7 linked regions of the Homo sapiens genome follow. The protein of the gene in region 4 interacts with the protein of the main gene of each other region in a pairwise test. Each region holds a gene or a part of one and is shown on either strand. Other genes may lie near its edges. The genes, in order: TUT7, DPYSL5, TLR10, WFS1, POLR3F, ZNF791 and ZNF696.

What was found.
Region 1: the proteins of WFS1 (region 4) and TUT7 interact in binary tests that used the Homo sapiens proteins (3 or more experiments, as listed by UniProt).
Region 2: the proteins of WFS1 (region 4) and DPYSL5 interact in binary tests that used the Homo sapiens proteins (3 or more experiments, as listed by UniProt).
Region 3: the proteins of WFS1 (region 4) and TLR10 interact in binary tests that used the Homo sapiens proteins (3 or more experiments, as listed by UniProt).
Region 5: the proteins of WFS1 (region 4) and POLR3F interact in binary tests that used the Homo sapiens proteins (3 or more experiments, as listed by UniProt).
Region 6: the proteins of WFS1 (region 4) and ZNF791 interact in binary tests that used the Homo sapiens proteins (3 or more experiments, as listed by UniProt).
Region 7: the proteins of WFS1 (region 4) and ZNF696 interact in binary tests that used the Homo sapiens proteins (3 or more experiments, as listed by UniProt).

What each region holds. Positions count from the first base shown.
Region 1 is NC_000009.12:86,323,204-86,327,446, forward strand, and holds part of TUT7 (terminal uridylyltransferase 7), read right to left. Parts: intron 2,312-4,243; coding exon 2,131-2,311; intron 1,322-2,130; exon of another isoform or gene 1,159-1,321; intron 758-1,158; coding exon 1-757. UniProt on the Homo sapiens protein: Uridylyltransferase that mediates the terminal uridylation of mRNAs with short (less than 25 nucleotides) poly(A) tails, hence facilitating global mRNA decay. Essential for both oocyte maturation and fertility.
Region 2 is NC_000002.12:26,931,165-26,935,407, reverse strand, and holds part of DPYSL5 (dihydropyrimidinase-related protein 5), read right to left. Parts: intron 3,769-4,243; coding exon 3,724-3,768; intron 2,151-3,723; coding exon 2,075-2,150; intron 831-2,074; coding exon 674-830; intron 1-673. UniProt on the Homo sapiens protein: Involved in the negative regulation of dendrite outgrowth.
Region 3 is NC_000004.12:38,779,585-38,784,523, reverse strand, and holds the start of TLR10 (toll-like receptor 10 isoform a precursor), read left to right. Parts: upstream 1-1,533; 5' UTR 1,534-1,603; exon of another isoform or gene 1,604-4,939.
Region 4 is NC_000004.12:6,296,607-6,300,849, reverse strand, and holds part of WFS1 (wolframin), read right to left. Parts: intron 194-4,243; coding exon 1-193. UniProt on the Homo sapiens protein: Participates in the regulation of cellular Ca(2+) homeostasis, at least partly, by modulating the filling state of the endoplasmic reticulum Ca(2+) store.
Region 5 is NC_000020.11:18,473,431-18,477,673, reverse strand, and holds part of POLR3F (DNA-directed RNA polymerase III subunit RPC6), read right to left. Parts: coding exon 4,216-4,243; intron 2,600-4,215; coding exon 2,487-2,599; intron 1-2,486. UniProt on the Homo sapiens protein: DNA-dependent RNA polymerase catalyzes the transcription of DNA into RNA using the four ribonucleoside triphosphates as substrates.
Region 6 is NC_000019.10:12,620,400-12,624,642, forward strand, and holds part of ZNF791 (zinc finger protein 791), read left to right. Parts: intron 1-3,300; coding exon 3,301-3,427; intron 3,428-4,243. UniProt on the Homo sapiens protein: May be involved in transcriptional regulation.
Region 7 is NC_000008.11:143,293,674-143,297,434, reverse strand, and holds part of ZNF696 (zinc finger protein 696), read right to left. Parts: intron 1,696-3,761; coding exon 635-1,695; 3' UTR 1-634.

The sequences.
Region 1 (4,243 bases), on a different chromosome or scaffold from region 4:
TCCTCCTCTTCATCAGAGGGAATCATTTCTGATGTCTGGCCCTGTACTGAGTGGGTAAAGTGGTTTAGAGAGTCTTCTAGTTCCTCAGTACCTTCTGTACTTTCTCCATCAAGATCAGCCTTGTTATCTAAAGTGGCAAGTCCCTCACACTCTTTAGCTGTGGGATTTTGGAAGCCTTCTAAATCCAAAGTGCTCTCTGACTCATTATTACGTGTGCTGCCACAGACAACATGCTCTCCACGTTTCTGATCAACAGTCAACAGATGCTTGCCCTTCCTTCCAACTTTCTCTTTCTCGTTTTTCCTTCCTGTTTCTGGATGGTATACTTTATCACCCTTGTAATCATCAGAGTTAACATCTGCTTGGATACAGTCTGAGTTTTCAGGGTGGACACTGATGTGTTCATTTCCCATTTCTTCTTTTGGTGGGCTTCCAAAACTTTCAGCAGTCTCTTTAAGAGTAAGTGGCTGTACCTTACAGGTATTTGCAGCTGAACTGGTAGCACCAGGACCTTGGGCCAAAACTGAGTTTTTGAGCTTATCATCTTTTGTTTGTACATCTGGATGATGATTTATTACTTCTTTAGAATGTTCTGAAATACATGTAATTGCATTCAGAGGCTTTAGAAGGCTGGATTTTGTAATTTTGTGTGGAAGAGCAAAATACTTGTATGTTGTCCTTAAACAATGAAGTATATATTCAAACACAGGTTGACTATTTAGGGTTCTTGCCACATTTCTTTTAACAGAGTAGGGATCTGTAATAAAAAAAAGAAAGAAAGAAAAATCCATCTCTTCATATGTTACTATATTTCATGTTTTAAAAATTAGCCTGCTGCAGATAAAAACAGACAACAAACAATGGTAAAATTTATCTTGCATTTTATAGACTTAAAAAAAAACTGGGGGTGGGGAGTAAGAAAACAGAGTTTAAGAACAAAAAGCAGTATTTTCTGAAACATCGGCTCTATGAAGGGAACCCATTCTGTTCAGAACCAGTACCCCTTCTCCCTATTGTGCTCTGTGACTGTGGAGGTAGAAAAGATGTTATCAGCGTGGCTCTCAGGCCCTTGGGAAGGAAGATCTTCCCACCAGGCTCTGCTGCTGCTGAGTGCTCTGCCTCCCCACTCAGCCAGGCCCTGTGGTTTATCGAGCTTACCTCCACTCTTCTGCCCTGGGAAGCCCCATCACTGAATTGGCTGGACTGAATTTCAGGGGCGAGAGGGAGGCACCAGGAGGAGACACCACTTCTCTCAATCTTTTCTCCTCCCCTAGAACTCCAGCAGGTTAGGCAATTGGCCAGAAGAGCTGAGCCACAGAAACTGCAGGGGAGGGTTTAAAAATGTGAGATCCCCATGACTGCACACAGAATTTATGCAAAATGCAAAAAACCCTCTTATGCAACATAAAGCTTGAAAAAAAAATCAAGCAAAAATAAGAGAATTCCATTTAGGAGGTTCTTTAAATTATTTAAAGGAGGAGAATTAAGATTTCTAGAGGGGTTTCAACCTCCTGACTTTGCAAAGCTGAGAAGAGCTAGTCCATTTAATGATGTCTACAGGGCACATCAGTGTGTCTTTGATAAAGTGATTTCAGTTAAATGAGGCTTCACTAAAAATGTGTTTTTATGAATAAGTTCTAAATGCTACTGTAGATATGTCAAAAATAACTACTCATTCTCTCTACTGGAGAGGAATCCAATGGAGAATGACATTTTTGACGAGAAAAAGTATTGTCCTCACCTTTGCAAAACTAAACAACTTCAACAATCCACAAAAGGACTGAATTAAAAAATCCAGAGGTGAGAATGGTAAAGAGGAAAGGGGGATTTACACATCACTGTGAAAAACATACTTTAGGCATTTAAGTGGTTAAGCAATCTACAAAGAAAGCAAGGACTCAGCCAGCCATTATTCAAGTTGTTTATACTTTAAAAACCCAGGGTGAACAGTTTGATTCCTTGAAATGACCCACTGTTAACACATGCAAGATTCTAACTATTTATTTCCCTTTGAGGGCAGGCCTACCTTACTTGTAGGAGCTGAAAAGAGACTGAAATAAAAAGCATGCTGTTAGACTGGTACCTTTAAAAAAAAGAGTGGGGGGGAATAAGATAAACATTTTGAGATACCTTCAATGGCAATGCGCTTTTTGGGCCAATCCTTCAATTCCCGAGATACCAATTCTTTGACACGAATACTTATCACTAAATCAGCCAAATTAAATTCTAAAGCATAGAACCGCAGCAATTCCACCCAGAGCTGCCCAACTGGTACTGAAGGCTGGTGTTTCACATCCAATATTAATGACACCTATTAATAGCAAAGAGAAACATACAGGTTATTTCAGATGTAAGTACAATCTGGAAAATTAAAGATCATTTAAGCATCAAATTAAAAAAATCTGGAAAACCTTAACAAAGATATAAGCCTGACAATCCATCTAGATAAATCAATTCTAACTTCTATTTTGTTTGTGGTAAAACAGCATTACTTCACTGCACTATTAGGATTAGAGTATGCTATAATCCAGTCATTATCACAGGAATAGACAGGATCAGTTTTATTTAACCAGACAGAGCTCCTAATTTTGAACTGTTAATAACAGGTGGAGAGGACTGTGCATGGGTTGCTAATATTCTCAGCACTGAACTCTTCCTGTTACTGCTGCTGGAGGCACCTTTACAGTCACAGACACACAAAAATGGACAGTAGCTAAAGGCATAGAGAAAAAGGAAAAACACTCCTCTCACTGCCCTGAGAAGCTACATAAGCACATTGACTCTGTCAGTGACAACTGATTTTAAAGTCAAATAACTCTTGCCATCAGAAATTGACACTGGTTTTACAGTTACAGACTTCTGACAAGTTGGAACATAACTGCGATGTAATATATTAGAAAGTACATATTACTTAGGATAGGGGAAAATATGGGCCCAAATAGAGATTCTGCCACGTCATAGCTCTTAATTGCTCTGTGACTTAGCTTCTTCATTCTCAGACTGGTAGCACAGCACAGTGGCTAAGAGAACAGGCTTTGGAATTGGGACAAGCTTAGATCTGAAATCCAAACTCTGCCATGTACTAGCTGTGTATGATCTGGGTCAAGGTCTATAATCTGTCTAAGTCTGGGTTTCCTCATCTGAAAAATGGGGATAACAGTACCCACCTCATAGGGTTGTTGGGAGGACTGAGTGAGATAGTGTCTGTAAAGTGCTTAGCACAGTGCCTGGCACACAGTGTTCAAAAAATGGTCGCTATCATTATCTGCAGAGTAGGGATGATACCACCTATAACACAGGATAGTGATGAGGATTAAATCAGAAACAAGGGAAAGCATCTGGCAGACTTGGTTGCTCTCTGTATTTTTTCCACGTAGGTATAGCCTTTTTAAGTACAAGAAATCCATATATCACTGAAACACAATGTCACCACTGTAAGATGCTCTTAAGAGGTAATCTAGTTCAACTCCTGTATATTACAAGAGAAGGAACTGAAGCCCCACGAGTGCCCATGGCTTGTCAGAAGGTTGCACTGCCTGGCAGTGGCCGGATGAGAACAATGTCTCAATGTCTCCTGATCTCAGTACAGTGCACACCATATGCAACCCCATAATGTCTGAAGCTCACTTTATTTCAGAAGTGGCAGCATGATTAATCTTTCCAAATAACATAAAAATGTAAAAATAAAGCATTAAATGGATTTACAGCAATAGCTTTTCCTATAATTCACACTGAAAAAAGTAATTTCCTCTAAGGTGCACAAATTTGTTTTCAATCATACTTTATTATATTAAGCTTCAAAATCAGTGGTCTATTTTTCTCAATCACAAAGGTTCTGTCAAGTAATACAAAGTCATCTGGTGGCTTTACAAGGCAGAACTGATTAAAAATGGAAGTTGTCTAAGTCCCAAACACTACAGTTTGAGGACACAAATAAACCCCCCAGAAATTTTAAGCATTATTACATTTTACCTCTTTATCCATAGCGGCATTACAAAGGATTTTTAAGCATCTCACTGAAATGACTTGATAATACCATAACATGAAACTGGAGAGACCTTTGAAATATCTAGACTACAGGAACTTAAACTGGTTTTCTTTAAAGCAGAGAACATTTTCTTTTTCAAATAAAATAAGAATAGCAGCTAACATTTACTGAGTGCTCACCACATGCTCGGCACTGAGTTAAGCATTCTGTAAGTGACCCTATGAGAGGGTACCAATATTATCCCCATGAGTAGGG
Region 2 (4,243 bases), on a different chromosome or scaffold from region 4:
CCCCAAAAATGTTAATAGGAGAGAGAAAGAAGCTGCAAGCAGTTATTGGGATAAAACAGAAACCCTTCCATAATTGGGTCCCACTGAATTCAGACCGTTCATCAAACCATTTCCTTTAGATTGGGATTGCATGGGGAAAAAGCAGTGTCAGAAATAGAAGAGCTGGAGAAAGGAGATCTGGAGGAAGGGTGTGGGAAGGAAAGGGGGAGAAAGTGCAGAAGAAAAAGGGAAAGGGGAAGGAAAGGAGGAGAAACCCACAGAAGGAGGGATGTACAGACAAGGGGCACACGGGAGCCAACAAGAAGAGGGAGAGGTGAACAAAAGAAACAGAAAGGACCCCTACATTCTAGGATAAGTCACAGGCCACGTTCTGCAGCTCCCCACTGGGCTTTAGAGTAAGAGATCAATGTCCTTTGAAATTCCGAATAACCACGGTTCACAGTTCTATATGTGCTCTTCACTCTTATACTTCAGAAGATCTCACTCCATATCAAGCGGTCATAAAATCCCAATAGGATGGCAATTATCTGATGGGCTCAGAGAAGGTAAGAAAAGCACAATGATCCTATGGGCACAATGAAATCAAACCTAGCTCAGATTTGTTTCCTGGGCCCTCTATGACGTCTTCCTAAAGATGTACACATCCCTGCAATGTGCTGCTGAAACGCCTTACTTGGCCAGCAGGCTCATGAGGTAGGTTGAGGTGTTGGTGTCCAGTCTCAGGGGAGGCACCGTGACATAGGCAGCCGCGTGGGACCAGTCCTGGTGGTAGTAGTGTAAGCCTGTCAGCGTGGCATGTGCAGTGGTGGTCTCCGCCAGCACAACCTTCCCTGGAAGAAGAAAGGTCAGAACCATAACCAGGAAGCCACCGAACCTGAGCGATCGCTGGTGTGTGCCTCTCATTTTACAGGTGAAGGAGCTGAGGTCAGAGACAGGAAGGGACCTGCCCAAGCTCACAGGGCTTTTAAGAGCACAGCTGGGTTCAAGCCCAGAGAGCCTCCCTATTCTGCTGACTTAGGCAAGGAGGACAGAGGGACATGGGCACCGAGGCCCAGCAGGACCAAGCGGCACTTTGAGGAGTCTGGTTTGGCCAGATGACCAGAGCACTGGTGTGTGCAGGGTGCTGTTGGCAGATGGAGCTTGACGGTGGGTGAACAGGCATGCAGGGCCACGAATGCCACGCTAAAGAGCAGTCTAGACTGTTTTCTGGACAGGCAGTTGCTGTGAGCAGCTTCAAGAGAACGGTTGTGGTAGGACAGGGAGGGCCGTAGCAGGGCTGGAGGACAGGGAGACAGGAGGTGGGAGCAGTCACCAGGCTGGGACGACAGTCTAGGCGAGACCCTCCAAGGGGCTTCAGTGAGGGGAGAGGCAGGTGGCGGGATCTAGAGGGCGATAGAGTTGAAGGCCAGGATGCCCTTGCTTCTGATCGATTATAGTTGAAGGCTGAGATGCCCTTGCTTCTGATCTGTCTCCCCAGGCTTGTGACTGTGACTTTGTTTCTCCTGCTGCCAGGCCCTCACCAGCACCTGGGGCGGGGCTGGACTCCAAGCATCTGCAAGCCTTTAGGTACTGCCAGGCGATCCGCAACAGAAGCCATACAAGTGCCCCTCGGACTCATACACAGGGTTCCAGGAGGCTAAAAGGAAGCTGGGCCCACACACTGTTCTTTCTTTAGGGACTTCCCAAACAGCCCCTGAAATGCCCACTGAAACTGGTCCAGCATTTTATGTTAGTTGCCAAGGCAACTGCTAGTAAAATCTATGAGGCCAAAAAGACACTAATTAATGAGTGGGTTTAAAACTTGGAAAATGTTACCAGACCCAGGAGAAGTGACAGACACTTCCGTAAAGCTGTTATGCATACAAATTTGCAGAAGAAAAAGCTCATGTTCTAGCAGACTAAAGCCAGCATAGCACAGGGCAGCTCTGAGGAAGACGGTGGCAGATGAAAGGGAAGGGCTGGCTCAGGTCCTGGTTTCAGGAGCCGGGGCCAGGAGTGAGCACGGCTAATGGGCCCCATCCATCTCCAGTCCCTCCACTTGACCTGCTCTGTCCAGCCAAGTCTATGGACTCACCTTGCATCTTAGCAGCTGCGATAACGTCACCAGCCGAGATACTGGACACGTTGACCAGGTAGATTGGACAGTGAGTCTAAACACAAGAAACAGTGGGAAGTAGGGAGGGTTGACCCATAAACTTCACAAGCATCAGAATAACCCTGGCAAAGTCAGCCCTGGCACCAGCGCCTCCCCCTGCGTCACTCAACCCCACCCTCAAGGTGACAGTCCTTAAGCGGAGAATGCAGGGCTGGCAGTCAGGGCAAGGTTGCAGGAACTGCATGATACGGGGAGGCAGAGAACAGCCTCCAGCACCAGAGCCCACCGGGAAGCCCAGCCTGTGAAGTTCAAGACCGTCAAGTCTGAACCTCGCATTTTCTCCCATCTGACAACCATGACTGTAATTTAAAAGGGGGGAACTCTTTTTCCTATTTTAATTTCCTGTTCATAAACGTGATGACCTAGAGTTAGTCGTGTATTCTGTATCTAAAATTACGATGCCTGCTGTCTGAAGGCTGCTTATCAGTAGACAGAATGCACCCTGGAGATGAACAAAATACAAGGGGGTTAGGGTTCAGAGTCTAGGCAAGAGAAGGCTGACCTTGCGAACGGACACCTGGACTGTAATACTGGTTAGCTTTTTCTCTACTAAGCTGTGCAACCACGGTCCATGGCTTAACTCCTCTGAGCATATGCTTGAGCTAAAAGGCAAGGAACTGACTTTTTGTTGTTTGGGTCTTTCCTTATTCTGGGTTAAGTTCCACCAGGAAGTAATTGATAAATAACTATTGTCATGACAGTGAAACAATGTCCTTGTCCAGCGGCCAGAGCTCTAAAGTGCAATTGGGAAATTCTGTTTCCCCAGATGTTATTCTGTTCTCTTTGCTTATCACATTAGGAGGATGTAGAGTTTAGGAGCTGGACTGAGTTTACACGTGAGCAATGAACTGAGCTTCAGCAGGCTCGGCGGGGTGGAATGGAAAGCTGGTGGTGAGAAGGGTGAATGCAAGGATGGTGGGCATGACAGCGCTCAGTCAGCAAACAGCTCTGGGTTCCTGTGGGCAAGACATGGTGCTGGCACCCAGAGCAGAATGGGGCTGCATCGTAGAGGTTGGTTTTCTTTCTTTCTTTCTTTCTTTCTTTTCTTTCTTTCTTTCTTTCTTTCTTTCTTTCTTTCTTTCTTTCTTTCTTTCTTTCTTTCTTTCTTTCTTTCTCTTTCTTTCTTTCTCTTTCTTTTTTCTTTTCTTTCTTTCTCTTTCTTTTTTCTTTTCTTTCTTTCTTTCTTTCTTTCTTTCTTTCTTTCCTTTCTTTCTTTTCTTTTCTTTCTTTTTTTTTTTTTTTTTTTGACAGAGTCTCGCTCAGTCACCCAGGACAGATTGCAGTTGGCACGATCTTGGCTCACTGCAACCTCCGCCTCCTGGGTTCAAGCAATTCTCCTGCCTCAGCCTCCTGAGTAGCTGGGATTACAGGTGCACGCCACCACGCCCAGCTAATTTTTGTATTTTTAGTAGCAATGGGGTTTCACCATGTTGGCCAGGCTGGTCTCAAACTCTTAACCTCAGGTGATCCACGCACCTCGGCCTCCCAAAGTGCTGGGATTACAGACATCAGCACCGTGCCTGGCCAAGGTTGGTTTCTAATCCCACAGTGGACATCGGGGGACTTACCCTGTTTGCAATGGTGATAACACGATGAGTGGCTTCAGCTTCCAGCTGTTAGAAACAAAGGACAGGAGGAAACCAAACTTCACCATCTCCTCCAAGGATACCCACACCATACTCTCCCCTTCATGGAGCAACTGCACCCATAGGGGTTGGCTCGGGGCAAAGCCCGGGCAGAGGCACTAACCTCCAACTACCTTGGCTCACAGTGAGGGAGAATTCTAGGTCTTACAATACCAGGCACGCCCTTGCTGGATGCTACTTGGGGCTTAATTAAAAGGCAAGGAAACAAAAGTAAATAAAAACCCAAGGTCATGTCTCTCCTTGTTTTCTGGTGTATTCTCTCCATAGCCACCTCAGAACTGCAGCAAAGGAGAAATAGTGGCTGATTTGACTCCGGAAATTAGCCTAGATTAGGGTTTCTGCGCATGGTACTATTGGCATTTGAGTTGTATAATTCATATATATATATATATATATATATATACACACACACACACACACACACACACACACACACATATAT
Region 3 (4,939 bases), about 32 Mb from region 4:
ATCTGACATGATGGGAAGCAGTGACAGATCATCAGACATTAGATTCTCATAAGGAGCACGCAACCTAGATCCCTCCCATATGCAGCTCACAGTAGGGTCCAAGCTCCTATGAGAATCTAATGCTGCCACTGATATGACAGGGTGTGGAGCTCAGGTGGTAATGCAAGCGATGGGGAGCGACTGTAAATACAGATGAAGCTTCATTTGCTTACCCACCACTCACCTCCTGCTGTGTGGCTCGGTTCCTAACAGGCCATGAACTGGTACCTGTCTGTGGCCCAGGGGTTGGGGACCACTGCTCTAGATAACTCCTTTCCACCCTCTTCCTGCCTGATTGCTGAAATTATGGAGTCACCATTCCTACTCCTGCCCATCATCACATGACTGCCCCACCCAACTGATGAAAGGGATAACCGACCTGCACCTTGAAGAAAAGCATCATCAAAGAGCTCTAAGATGCTGTGGAAAACCAGTATGGTAGTTCTGCAAAAAATTAAACAGAATGGTCATACGATCCGTGAATTCCACTTCTAGGTATAGACTCAAAAGAATGTTAAGTACCAACTTAAATAGATATTTGTGCACCACGTTCACAGCAGCATTATTCACAAGAGCCAAAAGGTGAAAACTACCCAAATGTCCATTGATGGATGAATGAATGAACAAAATGTGGGACGTACATACAACAAAATAGTATTCAGCCTTAAAAAAGGAAGGAAAGATTCTATTATTCTATGTAATAATAATAGAAATGATATGGATGAACCTTAAAGACATTATGCTCAATGAAATAAGCCAGTCACAAAAAACCAAATATGGTATAACTCCACGGACATGAGGTACCTAGAGTAGTCAAATTCACACAGACAGAAAGTAGAATTATAGTTTCCAGGGTCTGAGGGAAGGGGAAAATGGGAAATTATTTTTTAATGGCATAGAATTTCAGTTTGGGATGACGAAAAATCTTTGGAGATGGGCAGTGGTGGTGGTTGCACAACAGTGTGAATGTACTTAATTAATGCCACTAAATTGTACATTTAAAAATGCTTAAGGTCAGGCGCGGTGGCTCACACCGTAATCCTAGCACTTTGGGAGGCCGAGACAGGCAGATCACTTGAGCTCAGGAGTTCAAGACCAGCCTGGGCAACTGGCGAAACCCCGTCTCTACAAAAAATACAAAAAACTTAGCCAGGCCAGTTGGTGAGCGCCTGTAGTCCCAGACATTTGCGGGACTGAGAAGCCCAGCCTCTTGCGGGCTTTAGCGCAAGAGGTCAAGGCTGCAGTGAGCAGTGATCACACCACTGCACTCCAGCCTGGGTGACAAAGTGAGACCCTACCTCAAAAAAAATAAAAATAAAAATAAAAATAGAAAGATGGTGAGCATGATAACTCCTATGTTATGTGTATTTGACCACAATTTAAAAAAGTGCTAAGATTATAATGAATATATATAACATGCAATACCAGTAGCATGCAGAAGAGGGCGGATGGGGTTTAAGCTTTACAGAAAACCTCGATTCAATTCCCTCCTGCAGCCAATTCTGACCGTGTCAACGAATCATCCACGCACCTGCAGCTCTGCTGAGAGAGTGCAAGCCGTGGGGTAAGAACCTTAGCTTTGTTTGTTGTAACTCTCATTAAAAAGATATAAGGGCTGCATGGGTATTTTCTAAAAAGGAGATAATTTGAGCTAATATTGAGGGGAGGGAAGTAGGGTTATTTAGATTTTTAGTATTTACTATTTTGTCTAGATTAATGATTAGTGACCTTGGGGCTATTGATCTGAGGAATTTCTTGCAGATGCTTGAGAGCGTGGGTTTCTTTTCACTGATTGCGGATCAAACCTGGTCAGCTCTTCTATTCAGATTGAACGGTCCTATGCACTGTGGCAAGTTTTTTCTAGCTCTTATTTCCCCACAGCGTATGTTAACCTCTGCTGGATGAAACCTTTGGCTATTTAAGGCATATTTGTTGCTCCTTTACCCCGTTGAAAAGTTCTGCATTTGTGTTACCTGTTTAAAAGTAGGGGCAGATCTGATGGATCTTGTACAATGCAGTTCTTATTCCGTTTCCTTCAGAAGTGGACAAAGAGGGCCATATGTGGTTGCTGTAAAGAAGAGGATGGTTAACAACCTGTGAGCATTTGGTTTCTTGATAAGCTTTCTCCCAGACCACCTACACTGAGCTATTAATTAGGAATAGGATGCACTTCGAGTTTTATTTCAATTCTTGTGAACTTATAACTTTCCTAAGAATATATTTATACATGTAGGCAAAGTCTCTTGAACTTTGTGGCACCTAGCAGAGTGTCCCACAGCAGCTGCATGAAGCTTCATAGACAGGGGCATGGGGTGAGAAAGGAGGAAGTGGCCGCCATGGCAGCTGGTCAGATCAATGGATTCAACCTCAGTGATTCGGTCCTTAGGATGTCGTTACATCTTAAGCCACCTCATTTCAAGGTTTGAGGTGCCTTGCATTTGGGTTTAGTTACCATCCAGAAGGAACCAGACAGGTCTGGGTTCAAATCTCTGCTTCTTCAGTTGGTCATCTTGGGCAAGTTACTTTACCTCTGGGCTTTAGCTCCTCCATCTGTAAAATATGAATAATAATGGCCGCCATTTTGTTGAGTCATTGAGGGATTAAACAAGGTAATGGACATAAAACACTTAGCTCCATGTCAGACACGTAGGAAATACTGAAAAGAAGTCATTCTTACTCTTATGTTGCAAAGATCATTCAACATTCAATAGGTTCTTAATCTCTTTTCTATTTCTTTATATCATTGGGAAAAGATAAATTAGATGATTAAATATTCTTTGGTAAAACACTAGTTGTCATTTGATGATGTCTTTTGACTTGGACTTTTAAATTATAAGATATTAAAGATGTATTAAGGAAGGTCATTCTCTGTTTTTTACCTGCTTTTAACGTAGTAGTAGGGATATGATATTAACATATATATACTATTTATAGACTACATCACCAACATGGTGAAACCCCATCTCTACTAAAAATACAAAAATTAGCCGGGTGTGATGGCAGGTGCCTGTAATCCCAGCTACTCAGGAGGCTGCGGCAGGAGAATCGCTTGAACCTGGGAGGTGGAGCTTGCAGTGAGCTGAGATCATACCACTTTACTCCAGCCTGGGCAACAGAGCGAGACTCCATCTCAAAAAAAAAAAAAAGTGTATGTCCTACTTTTAAAATTGCTTTAATGAGGCCAAGCACAGTGGCTCACACCTCTAATCACACCCATTTGGGAGGCTGAGGTGGGAAGATTGCTGGAGGCCAGGAGTTTAAGAGCAGCCTTGGCAACATAGTGAGACCCTGTCTCTATGTAAAAGTTGTTTTTATAAAATGTCATAATGCATAAGTATTGCCTGAGAGATAGGACCTTTACTATTGTTATATTAAGAGAAGTTCAAAAAGAGTTCCTCTCCCATTGTAGTCCCAGATAAGACTGTGGTATTGGGCAGGGGGAAGAAGTGGGTAAGAGATAGAAACTCTGACTTCTCAGCGCAGAGTTCCAGCTAAAGCAACTGGGTTAGATTCTGCTGCATTCTTAAGGGGCCATGGCTCTAAGACCTAGAAGCTTAAAGTCAATTGCTACAAATTAAGCACTCTATGAGAGGATAACATTAAAAGCACCTTTGTCAACCTAATGATTATAACTGCCAGGGTCCTATCAAGCCATAATAGAGCCTGAGGCAAAAGAAACAATCAGCAATACTGATCCTGTCTTTATGAAAAATTTCGATATTTTGTTCAACATAGATTTTTGCATTAATTTTCATTTTTAAAAATATTTCATGTAAACATTATCTTGATTACTGAGTTCCTTGGGACCCCCTTAACATTTATGCCTTCCTTGCTTCACCCGAGTCTTGACCTGATAACTGCCACCATTTATTAAGTGTGATATGCTAGGCATGGTACTAAGTGACTTACATACATTGTCTTATGCCTCTTCACAAGCTCCATTTTACAGATGACAAAACCAGATCTTTCAGAGATTAAATAAATGGTCCGAGTACATAGCTAATGAGTGGATGAATGGTTAACATTGGATTTGAACACAGATCCATCAATCACTAAAACCAAACTTATTCTTTTTTTTTTTGAAACTGAGTCTTGCTCTGTTGCCCAGGCTGGAGTGCAGTGGTGGCATCTCAGCTCACTGCAACCTCCACCTTTTGGGTTCAAGTGATTATCCTGCCTCAGCCTCCCGAGTAGCTGGGACTACAGGCACATGCCACCACGCTCAGCTAATTTTTTGTATTTTTTTAGTAGAGACAGGGTTTCACCATGTTAGCCAGGATGGTCTTGATCTCCTTACTTTGTGATCCACCTGCCTCAGCCTCCCAAAGTGCTGGGATTACAGGCCTGAGCCACCGCGCCAGGCCTACCAAACTCATTCTTCAACCATCATGCCCTGCACTGTATCAGGAATTCACAACATAAATTCATTCATTCAACACATATTTATGAGAGCATATTATGCATCACGTTGTACTAAGGATTAAAACGTTGAAATTCATACATACAAGGATTCATTCATTCATATGTGCATTCAACAAGCAGTAATGAGCAGGCACCATGTGTCAAGCACTATGCTACATGCTGAGGATACAGAAGTGAACAAGACAGACAGCTACCACGGGAATGAACAGAGAAGGGACAGGTGACAAGCAAATGAATGAAAGTTTATTTACTAAGAGGTCATTCAGAAGAGATCATGAATTCATGGAAAATTATTTTCTGCATCTAGTGGCATGGAAATTAAGATATTCTGAATTTTAATGTATAGTTTTAAGAAAACTGAAAGAAAATATAAAGTTTATCATTATACATTGGATACTATGAACACAATAATTTGAGTAGTAATTACACTTCCAGGCCACAGTTGTAAACTGATTTTCTATTAGAAATATTTAAAAGT
Region 4 (4,243 bases):
GGTAGAAGATGACCAGCGGGATGAAGAAGGCGAAGAAGTCGATGGTGAGGTTGCTGACGATGAAGAAGAAGATGAGCGCGTTGATGTGGTGCGTGGGGATGATGGTGGACAGCCAGTGCATGCCTGCCCTGGAGGCCATGTCAATCAGGTACTCCTTGATCTCCATGATGGCGTGCAGGGGGTACTTGACCACCTGGGGGAAAGATGGTACGTGGGAACGAGGCTGGGACAGGACCCCCACTGCTCCCATCTCACGCCTCCCTCTGACCACCCTGCCTCTGGGCAAAAGGAACCCGCACCCTTGCGTTTTCCCATCACCAGCCCCATCCTAGTGGTCCTCCCTCCCCCCTTCTCCAGGTGGCCCTCCCCATGCTCGCGGTCCCTGTGAGCCCTCCCTCTTCTGGGCCTGGAGCCCCCCTCTGCCCCGTGCCTGGCTCCCCACCTTCTACCAGCGTGACTAGATGCATGTGTGCTTCTCTCCCTGCAAGACCTCCAGCACTGGAGGGACCCACGGGCTCCCCACTTCCCTCCCCTCAGGGTCACCCACATGAAGAGATGACGGAGCCCTGAGATGCCTGTCTGGGAGCTGGTTTTGTGACCCAGCTCTGCACTACAGCAAGGATGTCACCTCCCTGAGCCTCCATGAAGGGAAATGGCGATCCTTACGAGGAGGAGAAGCCGCAGGCAGTCCCCGGAGGGGTGGCAGAGCAAGCATTAGGGAAAGGGAGTTCAGTGCAGACACAGGCAGAGGGCCCAGCACCACTCTCCCAGCAAAAATACCGTTCAGCTGCACGGGGCTGCCGGGTGAGCTGCCCTCCCTATGGCCGGAGACCCTGAGAAGCAGCTGCCAGGCCACCTTCTGCCCGTACACACACGTGCACACACACACACGCAACCCACCCCTACACACACGCATTCACACAAACCCACCCCATACACACACACACAACCCACCCCTACACACACACATGCAGCCCACCCCTACACACACGCATTCACACAACCCACCCCTATACACATTCACACACACGCAACCTACCCGCATTCAAACAACCCACCCCTACACACACATTCACACACACGCAACCCACCCCTACACACACACACGCAACCTACCCGCATTCACACAACCCACCCCTACACACACATTCACACACACGCAACCTACCCGCAAACAACCCACCCCTACACACACATTCACACACACGCAACCCACCCCTACACACACACGCAACCTACCTGCATTCAAACCCACCCCTACACACACATTCACACACACGCAACCCACCCCTACACACACATTCACACAACCCACCCCTATACACATTCACACACACGCAACCCACCCCTACACACACGTGCACACCCACCCCCACACGTGCACCCTCACACATGCACACCCACCCCTACACGTGTGCACCTACACATACACACCAGCGCACCCCTACCTCCCCATAGTCAAGGCCAAAGGCTGCCTTCCCCCGACCTGTGGGTCCTGCTCCCCTGCTCTGCATGCAGCGCTAAGGTCAGAAAGAGCTCTTGGCCTTCACCACAGCCAAGAGGAGCAGAGGGCTGAGGGAGGCATGCTGGGAGCAGCCTCAGGATGGGGTGAAGCAGCGCTGCCACCCAGGGCCAGCCCTCATGCCTTCCTGGTCTGTGCAGAACTCAGAGGCCCTGAGCCCTGCCAGAACACAGGGCAGCCAGGCAGAGGGACTGGAGGGGATGGGGGACAAAGTGGCCATGGTGCCAGTGCTCACACAGCATGGCGTGGCATACAAAGCAGGTTCTGTGCATCTTCAGAAGTGCCAGGGGCCTGGACCAACACCAGGAAGTGGACGCCTAGGGGGCGGCCCCACATGGGGGTAGGGAAGCCTGGCTGCATGTCCAGGGCCCACTGAGGGGCTACATGACACATCCAGGCTGGAGCCCCCCATCAGCTCCGGGCCTCGGGGAAGCACCAGACCCCACAAATCCCCTGGGGCAGGTTCTCTCCACCAGGCCCACCAGAAGGCCAAGGAGGGATCCCAGGTGAATGGCAACTAGGTGACAACACCAGAATGTGGCCCTCACCTGCCAACAGCCTGGCTATCAGCTCTGGAGGACCAGGACACCTGGAAACAACCAGAAGACTGAGTCTTCCACAGATGAGAGGAGAGGGGCAGGCTCATGGAGGAAACGGAAGTGTTATGAGTGTGTGCATGCATGTCTACACAGACTGAGCCTTCCACAGATGAGAAGGACAGGCTCATGGAAGAAACGGAAGTGTTTAGGAGTGTGTGCATGCACGTCTACACGTGGGGGAACAGCTCTGCTGCTTCATGTATATTTGTGACAGTCCACTTAATCTCTGTTTTATAACAAGCAAATAAACGATTAAAGCAGCTAACAGCTCCCCTAGCTCTCTCTGGGGTCAACAACCTTCTACATGAGCAGAGAGGCGCTCACACTGCCAGGAGATGGCCAGGGAAGACCAGGCACTACAGGGTTTGAGGGCATTTCCAACGCTTGCCAGAGAGCCAGAGGGCATTTATGAAAACCAACCTACTCCAGGGTTTGTTTGGGGCAAGCCCCTGTAGTATGACGCCAGGCCAGCTGGCTAAAATCAACAGCTACACGAGTCAACATGTGCGTCAGCCGGCAGGCTGCTCAGTTAATCCCCGTATGGGGGCCTTGCGAACAGCAGGACAACTAAAGGTGGCCTGGCCCGCCACTGCTCACCACCAGTTTCACGCACGACCGCCACGGTAGCAAGGGGGTGGCCTTGGTAAAAATAAATCTGAAATCCTGTCTTACTCAAAGCCATGCACATTCTTTTGCCTAGAACACACACAACCACCTGGTTGAGAGGGCCTTTAAAAGACAAGGAATATTCTAGAACATTACGTTGGATGGCGTCTAGCCTCTGCTTGGACAGTGTGGAGGGGCTGGTCCCCCACCTGAACTCGATGACCAGGGAACGATCCCCTTTTTAAAGCCCCAATTTCTGCTCCCTGCAATGTACACCCAAGACCTTCCTCTGACATGGGATTAAAAAGTTCAGTCTCCTTTTCTGCAAAGAAGGTCCAAACAAATTCAACTCCTGAGATGGAAAAAGAACGAAACTTAAAAACTATGAGGAGTCTGCCTCTATGAATAGAACACTGCAGAGCTCTCTGTCTGGGCCTGTGGTGATCGGCCCTTCTGCTGCCACGAGAAACCAGGAAGCAGCGTCACCACACCGATGGCCCAGCGGACCCGTGAAGAAGGCAGGCTGGGGAAGGGAGCCGAGACGAGATTCTGCTCAAACCTGTGGGCAAAAATGTTCCCGTGTCGGATCTTCCAATTATGTAATGTTAAAAATGTTACGATTTTAAGATATTAAGTTTGTTTTCAGAGGATTCTATCTACGATGACAGCTTGCACCTCCAGGCTCCAGAAGAGAACTGTGTGGAGTCTGGAACATTCTTTGTGGGAGTAAGGGTGGCTCACAAAGAGGTGTCTGTCATTTTCACTTTGAGTGAAGACCTCTCCTTGTTCTACAAAAGGCTACTAAAAGGTGGGACAGCTCTCAGCCCTGGGAGACGCTTGTGACGATTCATTGCCTCCCTCACAAGAGACTTCTAAGAAGACAAACTGCAAAGGAATCGAAGTGCTCTGACAGCATCCAAAACTAAAGGGAAACAGAGTCTTGTTTACTTCTTGTCAAAACAGCTTAAATCTCTCCCTTCTAAAAAGGACTTTCAGGCTGGATACAGTGTCTCACGCCTGAATCCCAGCAGTGTGGGAGGCCAAAGTGGGAGGCTCGCTTGACCCAGGAGTTTGAGACCAGCGTAGATAACAATAGTGAGACCCCCATCGCTACAAAATGTTTTCAAAAAAATCAGCTGGGTGTGGTGGCACATGCCTGTAGTCCAGCTATTTGGGAGGCTGAGGTGGGAGGATCACTTGAGTTTGGCACGTTGAGGCTGCAGTGAGCTGTGACCGTGCCACTGCACTCCAGCCTGTGCAACAGAACGAGACCCTGTCATTAAGTAACATAAATAAATAGGATTTTCAGATGCTACACAACACTAGACTCACCATCCATAACTAGGTGACATAATTTTCCGAACAGGACGCATATGCAAGGAGGCATTATTATAATAGTACTTACACCAGATGGCATAAACTGGGACACCTGGGCCATGGCCGCCTGGCCCAAGGGTCTTCTCCAAGTTAACCCGTTCACCTGTGACCCTCACTCTCATTTCGGGAGTGTCTTTGC
Region 5 (4,243 bases), on a different chromosome or scaffold from region 4:
TTCTTTTACTTAGCAATATGCATTTAAGATTTACTCATATCTTTTCATGATAGCTTATTTCTTTTTATAACTGAATACTATTCTGGTTTGTCTATCCATTCACCTATTGAAGGATACCTTGGTTGCTTCCAGTTTTTGATTATGAATAAAGCTGCTGATTACGAATAAAGCTGCTATAAATATTCATGTAGTTATGTGGACATGAGTTTTCAAATCAGTTGGGTAAATACTTAAGAGCTTGACCTTTGGACAATGTGGTAAGACTCTGTTTAGTTTTGTAAAAACTGCCCAGTTTTTTAACAAAAGGACTGAAAATTTTGCATTCTTAGCAATGTATGAGTGTTCATCTTGGTCTGTATCTTGTCAGCATATGGTATTACCAATTTTTAGATTTTAGCTATTCTAATAGGTGTGTAGTGGTATCTCACTATACTAAATTTTATTTTAATTTGCAGTTCTCTAATGAAAAATAATGTAGAGCATCTTTTCATATGCTTATCTGCCATCTGTATGTCTTCTTTGGTGAGGTTCAGATCTTTTGCTCATTTTTAGTTGGATTATTTGTTTTCATTGTGTGTTTTTTTTTTTTTTTCTTTTTTTGAGATGGAGTTTCGCTTTTGTTGCCCAGGCTGGAGTACAATGGTGCAATCTTGCTCACTGCAACCTCTGCCTCCTGGGTTCAAGCAATTCTCCTGCCTCAGCCTCCCAAGTAGCTGGGATTACAGACATGTGCCACCACGCCTGGATAATTTTGTATTTTTAGTAGAGACAGGGTTTCACCATGTTGGTGAGGCTAGACTTGAACTCCTGACCTCAGGTGATCCACCCGCCTTGGCCTCCCAAAGTGTTGTTTTCTTATTGCTGAATTTTAGGAGTTCTTTGTATATTTTGGAGACAAGTCCTTTATCAAATATGTGATTTGCAAATATCTTTTAGTATGTAACTTGTCTTTTCATTCTCTTAATGTGTCTTGCAAAGCAGAGGTTTTCAAAAAATTTTGATAAACTCCAACTTATTAACATTTTCTTTCATAGACTACTATTGGAGTTATAGTCCAAGAATTCATTAACAAAGCCAAGGTCATGTAGATTTTCTATGTTTTCTTCAAAAAGTTTTATAGTTTTGCACTTTACACTGAGATCTAAGATTATTTTAACCCTTAAAAGGACACAGAAGTTCACCAACGGATGAATGAACAAAAGGTGATATACATCTATACAATGGAATTTTAATTGGCAATAAGAAGGAATAAAGCACAATATGGATAAATCTTGAAAACATCATGCTAAGTCAAAGTAGTCATACATAAAAGACTACATATTCTATTATTCCATTTATAGGAACTGTCCAGAATAGGCAAATCTATAATAAAGGCAGAAAATAAATTATTCGTTTTTAGGGCCTATGGAAAGAGAGGCTGGGAAACAAATACTAGTGGCCACATTTGGGGGTGATGAAAATGTTCTAAAATTAGAACAGCGGTGATGGTTGCACAACTCTTAGCTTATAGTAAAAACCAGTGACTGTAAATCCAAAGATTTTACACTTTAAAAGGTTGAATGAATTCTGTAGTATGAATGATGAATTATATTTCAGCAGAGCTGTTATTAAACATAAAGATGTAGAAGGAGGACTGACAAAATGAGGCTACATGATAGGGTTTTATTATATGATTTTTTCTACCTTTGTATATATTTGAAATTATCCATTAAACAATGTGGAAGGGAAATGCTATTCTGATAAATAAAATCACTAATAAGCATCAAATTCTTATAAGTGATGTTATAATTCTTATAATTCTTGTTTTATTCAAAAATAAAAACTTGAAGCAACATATGTAAGCGGATATTTGAGGAAAGGTCTACTCACTGCCACAGACCTAACAGCTCTGAAATTATAAAATTTGAATTATAGCTGTAATTCTTATGAAATGTGTATTGAAGCAAACTTTATTCTAGGGGAATCTCAGTTCCTCTGATGTCTAAATCAGTGAGGTCAGGGGCAGATGTCCCCGAGGGAGCCAGCTCTGGAGCAGGGGTGGGGCAGGATGAGGAGCAGGAAAAACACACGTGTACTAGAAGAGAAGCTCCACCAAGGCAGGGATCTTTCTACGACTTGTTCATTAATGTATCCCAAGCACTCAAAACAGTGTCTGGCACACAGCAAACACTCTTTGTTGAATGAGAAAGCTAATATGTCGGGATAAAGTAAATTATCTTACACACCACAAAATCTAGGAAAAATGTTCACAGTTCCAAAGATTCTTCACTGAAGACAGTAAAGTAGTTTTAGATTTTTGAGTGGGTGAGTGAGACACCAAGAGCTAACTGTGTAGGGACAAGTCTAAGCAGCATCTCCAAACCAATCCAACATGAGCTAAATTTTTAAGTCTTTTTTGACCAGCTGTTCTAAATCATGACATAACTTCAAGAATAAAAACTTGAAGCAACATATGTAAGTGGGTATCTGAGGAAAGGACTACTCACTGCTACAGACTTAACAGCTTTGATAAGCTTTTTACTTTCCAGATTCTTCAGAATTTTGTTGATTTCTGTTAATGGCAAATTACTTTTATAGCGGATATCTCTGCTCCATATTCCTATAAGAAAGTAAAGTAAAATAAGTTGAACTCTGGTTTTCATGGATTTTTAATGTTATTCCTCTAACTTGTGTCTCATTCCAAAGCTAGCAGTATAAAGCTAACAGTAAAGAATGCTGGCTAAAGTAGCAAAAGTATGCTAAACAATAAATAAGTATAATGCTTTGTAAGACTTATTATAATGATTTATAATTTCTAACTAGAAATTTCTTGGAATCCCAGTGTGGCAAACTTTTAAAAAACTTATGGAAAGGGCTGGGCATGGTGGCTCATGCCTGTAATCCCAGCACTTAGGGAGGCCGAGGCAGGTGGGTCACCTGAGCTCAGGAGTTTGAGACCAGCCTGGCCAACATGGTGAAACTCTGTCCCTACTAAAAATACAAAAATAATTAGCCGGGCCTGATGGCATGCACCTGTAGTCCTAGCTACTCGGGAGGCTGAGGCATGAGACTCGTTTGAACCCGGGAGGCGGAGGTTGCACTGAGCCGAGATCACACCATTGCACTCCAGCCTGGGCAACAGAGCAAGACTCCATCTCAAAAAAAAGAAAAAAAAAATTATGAAAACGACGTTTTTATAATGGAAGGAAAAATCATGGATGCAATGGAATTTTATCATCTGTACCCTTATCTCTGTTTTCTGATACTTTCATTTTAGATTGTAAATGTGAAATACAAACTTAAATTTGGGTCAAGGTCAACTGCCATCCTCAAGTGGGACAAAAACACTCTTTAGATGAGTGTCTGCATGCATGTAATCCATTATTTATACAACATTGTATTTGTGAGATGGAAAAGGAAGCCTAGGGTTCTTATGGCTGCTAAAAGCCCTGTGTGAGAAGCAATGATTTCTTTTTCAAAGAAGGAAATAAGTGTTATATATGGAAAGGGAATGTATGTAAATATTTTGCTTTATTTTCTTCCCAATGTAATGGCATATGAGATAGGAAGATTAAAAAAATATGCAGAATGGCTTTCTCATAGGACTATTTTTAAAAATGTTAATTTTAATAAATATAAGAATTAGTTATGTAATTTCAGATTACATCTCAATTTTTCCAGCTAATATCAATGACTCAAATAGATCCCAAATTATTGTAACTTAGGATTGCAATTTAGATACAGTTCTTCAAGCGGGTAGAAGAGAAACTATAGCTGCGGAGGGACATCTGTTAAGACACTGCTACACCACACCAGCTTTCCTTTTGGTCCTTGCAAAAACGAGAGGTGTCAGCATCCACAATTTATAGATAAGATAAAGAAACTGAAGCTCACAAAGTTTAAGTAACTTGTCCATGGTCATATAGCTAGAAGGTACAGATTTAAAAAAAAAACTTAAATTTTATTTATTTTGAATAGATAATACATTCATGTGACTCAGAATTCAGACGTCTTTTTCCATCCCTGGACACAGCCCTTTAGTTCTTGTCTCTTTCAAGGCAACAACGGCCTTACTCTTGGGTGTCCTTCAAGCACATGCATGTTATATTTGTATGTTCTATTACCTTCCTCAGTATACTCTGTCCACTGAGTTCTACCCTGGGAAGCTGAGATCTGGGTCCCTATATCTAGTTCCAAAGACAATGTTTTTTTCTGCTTCATCTTTCACATGCTTACCTTTATTTCCTGCATCCTCTATGATTTG
Region 6 (4,243 bases), on a different chromosome or scaffold from region 4:
TCCTGGGCTCAAACGATCTGCCCACCTCAGCCTCCCAAAGTGCTGGGATTATAGGCATGAGCCATCACGCCTGGCCAAAATGTTTATTTTCTATTAAATGTAAATGTAAATAAACCTTACAGAGAGCACCCAGGCATGCAGATGGACTTGTCACGAGGGAGAGCTCCCTGGAGCCAAATTTCTTCCTGCTCAGACCATAGTCCTAATTACTTAAGAAAACCCCTTCTAACTGTGTGGATCTTTTAACGTATGGTGCACATGAGTGCATGGAAATGAGAGAACCTGGGACAACAGCCCCTAGAGTGTCTGTCTGGGATCACTTCCTCCTGAAACTGGAGAAAGGGGATTTATGTTCTTTTTTTTTTTTTTTTTTTTTTTTGAGATAGAGTCTCGCTCTGTTGCCCAGGCTGGACTGCAGTGGTGCGATCTTGGCTCACTGCAACCTCTGCCTCCCGGGTTCAAGCGATTCTCCTGCCTCTGCCTCCCGAGTAGCTGAGATTACATGCATGCACCACCATGCCCAACTAATTTTTGTATTTTTAGTAGAGGCAGGGTTTCTCCATGTTGGCCAGGGTGGTCTCGAACTCCTGACCTGAGGTGATCCACCTGCCTCGGCCTCCCACAGTGCTGGGATTACAGGCATGAGCCATCCTGACCCAGATTTTATGTTCTTTTGGAGGTATGAAATTACCTGTTAATTTTATAATCATGGGCAAATTCACCATCAGACCATTGTGGACATCAGTGAAGTCCCCTGAAAATTGATACTGTCAATCTATTCTTCAAGGTCAGCAAAGCCCAGATGACATGATTATGGATCTTCCAGAAAGTGCTCTTCTGACATTTTATCTCAATGTGTATATGTATTTGTGCTAAAAATTGGTTGGAAGCAGTTCTGAGGCTCATGGGTATAACGATTTTGTGAAAGTCTAAGTTGTGAGGGCCCCTTCCTTGTGCCTGAGCTGTCTTCCCAGTAACTTCCTAGTCTCACGAAATGGGACAGAAAGTAAAAGGAAAAACTGGGTCTATGATAGATATTACACACACAGCCGGGCGTGGTCGCTCATGCCTGTAATGCCAACACATAGGGATATATATATATCGGAAACAAGTTGAAATTAATACGTCTCTAAAAGAGTATTTCCATTCAGTCAGCAGAATCTGAGTGCTTCTGATGGCCTCAAATACTTCAGGACGATATAGGCAGCTAGACCTTCTTAAAAGTTGGATTTCCACAAGCCTCCTGGCCTCTCATGTATAACAAAAGGGGATAGAAGATTCTCAATGTGTATTTACTTATTAAAACCTCCACCTCGGTGGGGGGTCAGCCCCCCTGCCCGGCCAGCCGCCCCGTCCGGGAGGGAGGTGGGGGGGGTCAGCCCCCCCGCCCGGCCAGCCGCCCCGTCCGGGAGGTGAGGGGCGCCTCTGCCCGGCCACCACCCCGTCTGGGAGGTGTGCCTAACAGCTCATTGAGAACGGGCCAGGATGACAATGGCGGCTTTGTGGAATAGAAAGGCGGGAAAAGTGGGGAAAAGATTGAGAAATCGGATGGTTGCCGTGTCTGTGTAGAAAGTAGACATGGGAGACTTTTCATTTTGTTCTGCACTAAGAAAAATTCCTCTGCCTTGGGATCCTGTTGATCTGTGACCTTACCCCCAACCCTGTGCTCTCTGAAACATGTGCTGTGTCCACTCAGAGTTAAATGGATTAAGGGCGGTGCAAGATGTGCTTTGTTAAACAGATGCTTGAAGGCAGCATGCTCGTTAAGAGTCATCACCACTCCCTAATCTCAAGTAATCAGGGACACAAACACTGCGGAAGGCCGCAGGGTCCTCTGCCTAGGAAAACCAGAGACCTTTGTTCACTTGTTTATCTGCTGACCTTCCCTCCACTATTGTCCCATGACCCTGTCAAATCCCCCTCTGTGAGAAACACCCAAGAATTATCAATAAAAAAATAAATTAAAAAAAATAATAAATAAAAAAAATAATAAAAAAAAGACTGTCTCAAACAAAAAAAAAAAAAAAAAAAAACCTCCACCTCATTTAATCCCATATCTTAAGGAATGCTGAATGATTTGGGTAATAAGAAATTAGGCTGTGGGCTGGGTATGGTTATTCATACCTGTTATCACAACACTTTGGGAGGCCGGGGCAGGAGGATCACTTGGGGCCGAGAGTTAAAGGTCAACCTGGACAATATAACAAAACCCCAGCCGGAGGCAGTGGCTCACGCCTGTAATCCCAGCACTTTGGGTGGCCGAGGAGGGTGGATCACGAGGTCGGGAGTTCAAGACCAGCCTAGCCAAGATGGTGAAACCCCATCTCTACTAAAAATACAAAAAATTAGCTGGGCGTGGTGGCACGCGCCTATAATCCCAGCTACTTCGGAGGCTGAGGCAGAGAATTGCTTAAACCTGGAGGGGCGGAGGTTGCAGTGAGCCGAGATCGCACCACTGCACTCCTGCCTGGGTTACAGAGTGAGACTCCGTCTCAAAAAAAAAAAAAAAAAGAAAGAAAAAAAACCCATTTATCTGGGAGTGGTGTTGCACATCTGTAGTCCTAACTACTCGTGAAGCTGAGGCAGGAGGATGTCTTGGGGGCCCAGGGATTTGAGGCTACAGTGAGTTAGGATTGCTGCACTTGAGCCTAGGTGACAGAGCAAGACCCTGTCTCTTAGAAAACAACAAACAAACAAACAAGAAATAAGAATTTATCTCATAAAGAATTGAAGATCTTGCCTGTAATCTCAGCAATTTGAGAGGCCAAGGCTAGTGAATCGCTTGAGCTGAGGAGTTTGAGACCAGCCTGGGCAACATGGCAAAACCCCATCTCTACAAAAAATATACACAAAATACTTACCTAGGTGTAGTGGTGTGTTCCTGTAGTCCCAGCTACTCAGGAGGCTGAGGTTGGAGGATTGCTTGAGCCGGGAGGACTAGGCTCCAATGAACTGTGATTGTACCACTGCACTCCAGCCTAGGTAGCAGAGCGAGACCATCTATGTCTCAAAAAGGAAGAAAAAAAAATTGATCCTAAAATTTGTCTCATTTGTGTAGGATTTCTTTCATTTTTCTAAGTTGAACTAGATACTACCATTAGAGAGCAATAGGACTTACAGTGACCACAGTGAAGATGTAGCTATAAGTTTATGTGTTCAATGTGCTGTTACATTTCTAACAATTGAGTCATGCACTAAATGTTTGGAGACCACAAAATCGTGTGTGAATTTCTTATGAATTGAGGATACCTCTCATCCTTGTCAATCTCACCTATTCTCTACTTATATTGGATGTTTCAGGACTCAGTGGCTTTTGAGGATGTGTCTGTGAGCTTCAGCCAGGAGGAGTGGGCTCTGCTGGCTCCTTCACAGAAGAAACTCTACAGAGATGTGATGCAGGAAACATTCAAGAACCTGGCATCTATAGGTAAGGATGACATCATTTTTTCTTTTTTCTTTTTTTTTTTTTTTGGGGGGGGACAGAGTTTCACTATTGTCCAGGCTGGAGAGCAATGGCACAATCTCAGCTCACCACAACCTCAGCCTCCCAGGTTCAAGCAATTCTCCTACCTCAGCCTCCCGAGTAGCTGGGATTACAGGCACGTGCCACCATGCCTGGCTAATTTTTTTCTTTTTAGTAGAGACGGGATTTCACCATGTTGGTCAGGCTGGTCTTGAACTCCTGACCACAGGTAATCTGCCCGCTTCAGCCTCCCAAAGTGCTGGGATTACAGGCATGAGCCACTGTGCCTGGCCTTCTTTTTTTTTTTTTTTTTTGAGTCTCGTCCTGTTCCCCAGGGTGGAGTGCAGTGGCGGGATCTTGGCTCACTGTAACCTCCGCCTCCTGGGTTCAAGCAATTCTCCTGCCTCAGCCTCCCGAGTAGCTGGGATTACAGGTGCCCACCACCATGCCCGGCTAATTTTTGTATTTTTAGTAGAGACGGGGTTTTATCATGTTGGCCAGGCTGGTCTCGAACTCCTGACCTCAGGTGATCCACCCGCCTCAGCCTCCCAAAGTGTGGGGATTACAGGCATGAGCCACCGCACCCCAGTGACATCATTTTTTCATATCGTCAGTTAGAGAACTGCCATTTCTTGCTCATAATCACTGTTCCGAGATTTGGAATCTGAAAAGGAAACACTTCTGTAAATAAACCAGGCATGGTTACAGCTCATTGTGAACCTATAATCTAATAATATTTGTATAATTTTTAATAATTTATCATGATTATTCTTGATCTAC
Region 7 (3,761 bases), on a different chromosome or scaffold from region 4:
CGTGTGATCCGCCCGCCTCGGCCTCCCAAAGTGCTAGGATTACAGGCGGGAGCCACCGCACCCGGCCAAGTTCCATAATTTTCTAAGCACACAGAAGTCGGGACCATATGAACCGGCTGTGAAAAGGCGTTGAAATACATGGATGAACCACCGACCCGCAAGGTACGGGGGAGGACGCGAGGCTTCCATGCCCTGTCTGGGCGCCCCCTTCCTAACTGCCCCCCCACCCCGCCTTCACCAACCCGAAGCCCGAGGCCCTCATCTCATGCAGGGTTTTGATGGAGGCCTGGTTGCGGAGGAATGACCGATTCAATCACCGGCCACTGCCCCGCAGCAGCTGACCGTGGGAGGCGGGGAGTCTCAGAGGCGGGCGGCCGGCCCGGGACAGACCCCTGAGACCTCCCCGCCTCTGGGAATCGCCTCCCGCGGGCAGCGCTCGCCTTCCCCGAGCCCTGTCTCTCCTGATTGCTCCCAAGCCAAGGCGGATGCAGGCCTGGCGAGGCTTTCGCAACCCGAGAACCAGGCGCGCAGCCGGCTGTTACTTCCTCACCGCGCACGGGGCGGACAGGAGCCTCCCCCGGCCTCGGCCTCGCGCCCACCAGGCCGCCGGCATCTCTTCCGCCGCAGCCCCGGCTCACTCGGCGCCATGCACCCGCCGGTGCTGGATGAGGTGGAAGCTCAGGCGGAAGGCGCGGCCGCACTCGGTGCAGCGGAACGGCTTCTCGCCCGTGTGGAGTCGCTGGTGCCGGAAGAAGCCCGACAGCGCCCGGAACGCGCGCCCGCAGTGGCCGCACTGGTGGGGCTTCTCCCCGGTGTGGATGCGGCGGTGCTCGCGGAGGAAGGAGCTGCGGCTGAAGGCGCGGCCGCAGTCCTGGCAGGCGAAGGGCCGCTCCCCCGTGTGCACGCGCTGGTGCTGGAGGAGGTTGGAGCTCTGGCTGAAGGCCTGGCCGCACTCCCGGCACTCGTACGGGTTCTCCCCGTGGTGGGTCCGCCGGTGCCGGACCACGTTCGAGCTGTGCAGGAAGCGCTTCCCGCACTCGCCGCACGCGTACAGCCTCTCCCCGGTGTGGGTGCGGCGGTGCTTGGCGGCGTCCGACCTCTGGCCGAAGGCCTTGCCGCAGTCGGCGCACGCGTAGGGCTTCTCGCCCGTGTGCACGCGCTGGTGCCGGAGGAGGTTGAAGCTCTGGCCGAAGGCCTTGCCGCACTCGGCGCACGCGTAGGGCCTCTCCCCGCTGTGCGCCCGCTGGTGCCGGACCACGTGCGAGCTGTGGATGAAGGCCTTCCCGCAGTCGCTGCACTCGTACGGTTTCTCCCCCGAGTGGATGCTCCGGTGCTTTGCCGCGTCCGAGGAGCACTTGAAGCTGCGGCCACAGGCGCCGCACGGGAAAGGCCGCCCCTTCCAGCTGCCCCCGCCCTCTGCGCCGGGGCCTGCGTTCGGAGGGACGTCTGACTCGAGGCCACTCTGTCCTCCAGTTTTCTCAGAAGTGACCGGGCCTCGAGGGGAACCTCCGGGCCTCTCTCTGGCTTCCTGGTTTTCACAAAGGCCAAGAGACCCCAACGCCCGGGGAGGCCCCCCTCTGTGGCCCTCTCCCTCGGGAGCGCCTGCCTCTGCGGCAGGCTCCGTGCTCTGAGCTGCCTGCACCTCGGCTGACCGGCTGCCACTCGGGGCCTGCGCCAGGAAAGCAGCCTTCACAGCTGAAAAAGAGGCCAGACAGGAACGATTTTAGATGTAAGAGAACGTGAGTCGAGGGTGGCTCTGGCAATCGTGGTGACGACAGAGTGACAGTGATGGTGACGTCAGTGTGCCACAGACACCTTTGATTTTGCCCATTCAGTTCCCGCCTCGTTTTTTTTAGTTTTTTTCTCCTCCCCACCTTCTTAACCCCCATGGTTATGAGGTAGACGAGAATCCTGCACTGCCACTCCAGAAACGGGGCTGTGGGGCCGGATGTGGTGACTCACACCTGTATCTCCGCACTTTCAGAGGCTGAGGCAGGAGGACCACTTGAGACTTGGAGTTCAAGACCAGCCTGGCCAACATAGTGAGATCCTGTCTCTTAAAAAAATAGAATTTTAAAAATATACAAACAGAAACGAGGCTAAACGGGGCTAGAAACAGGGCTAAACCTCTAGCCTCGGCCCACCCAGTCCTGGGAGGGGAGGGGACAGAAACGCAGGCTCTGGGCACTGCCTTACTCTGCGGGACAGCTGGGAAAGCAAAGGAGGCTGGAGACAGCTGGCAGCAAGCCAGGACGGGAGCGAGGCAGATGTAGCAGGAGGCCCGGGGACAGTGGCACCCAACAGAGCCCACGGCCCAGCTCTGCCTTCTGTCTGTCCTTCCTTCCTTTCTTGTGAGCCAGGGTCTTGCTCTATCACCCAGGCTGGAGTGCAGTGGTACCATCATGGCTCACTGCAGCCTCAGGGCTCAAGTGATCCTCCCTCCGCCTCCCAAGTAGGTGGCGCACCTCCAGGTGAGCACCACCACACCAGGCTATTTTAAAAATTTTTTGTAGAGACAGTGTGTCAATGTGTTGCCCAGGCTGGTCTTGAACTCCTGGGCTCAACCCTCCTCCCACCTGAGCCTCCTAAAGTGCTGGGATTACAGGTGTGAGCCACCACACCCAGCCATGGCCCCAGCTCATTCCTTTTACCTTGGACTCCCTGAGACAACGCAGACTCCTTAACAACTGCCCCCAAACACCAAACTCTAAGGGCTTCTGTTATGTGCAAACAGGAGCGTCCTCACTCAGACAGAAATCCGGACCAAGAGGCCAGTCGCGGTGGCTCACGCCTGTAATCCCAGCACTTTGGGAGGCTGAGGTGGGCAGTTCACGAGGTCAAGAGATCAAGATTAGGTGAAACCCTATCTCTAATAAAAATACAAAAATTAGCTGGGTGTGGTGGTGCACACCTGTAGTCCCAGCTACTTGAGAGGCTGAGGCAGAAGAATCACTTGAATCCAGGAGGTGGAGATTGCAGTGAGCTGGCGCCACTGCACTCCAGCCTGGCGACAGAGCAAGACTTTGTCTTAAAAAAAAAAAAAAGAAAAGAAAAGAAATCCGGAACAAGAGCTGGAAGCAGCAACCCACGTCCCATGTGGGCTGGGCGGCGGCGGCGCTGGTCAGGCTGAGCAACCCCATCCAGGCTGCGTTATCAATGGCCCTTGTCTGGCAGTCAAGCCACTGGTTAGATTTGGTTCCACTGGCTCACAGGGACAGACCATGTGGCCATTTAGAAAAAAGGCTTAAGGGGTAGGGGTGAAACCCTGGGACATGAGAAAGCTGGCAACTGAGCTTGGCCTGCATAGGAGGCAGGAGGACTCAGCCAGGAGGGGCAGCAGGAGGAGGGGGGCCAACGAGGCCAGCACAGCAACTGAGGAGGACTTCTCAGTCTGCAGGCAGTCCGCTGTGGCAGCAGAGGAGAAGCGGCTGAGTCCCAGCTGCACCTCTCAAGAATGTGGAGGGCGCAGATAAGACGGAAGCTCCTGTGGAGGTGGGGGTGGGGCAGGGATGTTCCAGGGCAGATGAGAGCAGGCTGCTATCGACAGTCCCCACCTCTCTCTGCCCTTGCAGACCCCTGACACTGAGCAGCCAGGGGGCGGGAGGCGCTCAGGGCGGCCTGCAGAACAGAAGCCCCTTGGCAGAGGCCCAGCCCTGGTCTTGTGGTTTGCAGACTTGGAAGTTCAAGAACTGACTCAAAGGTATTGCTTATGAGGAAAAAGAACCAAGACTATGGTGAGAAGGGGACACATACGTGGTGGA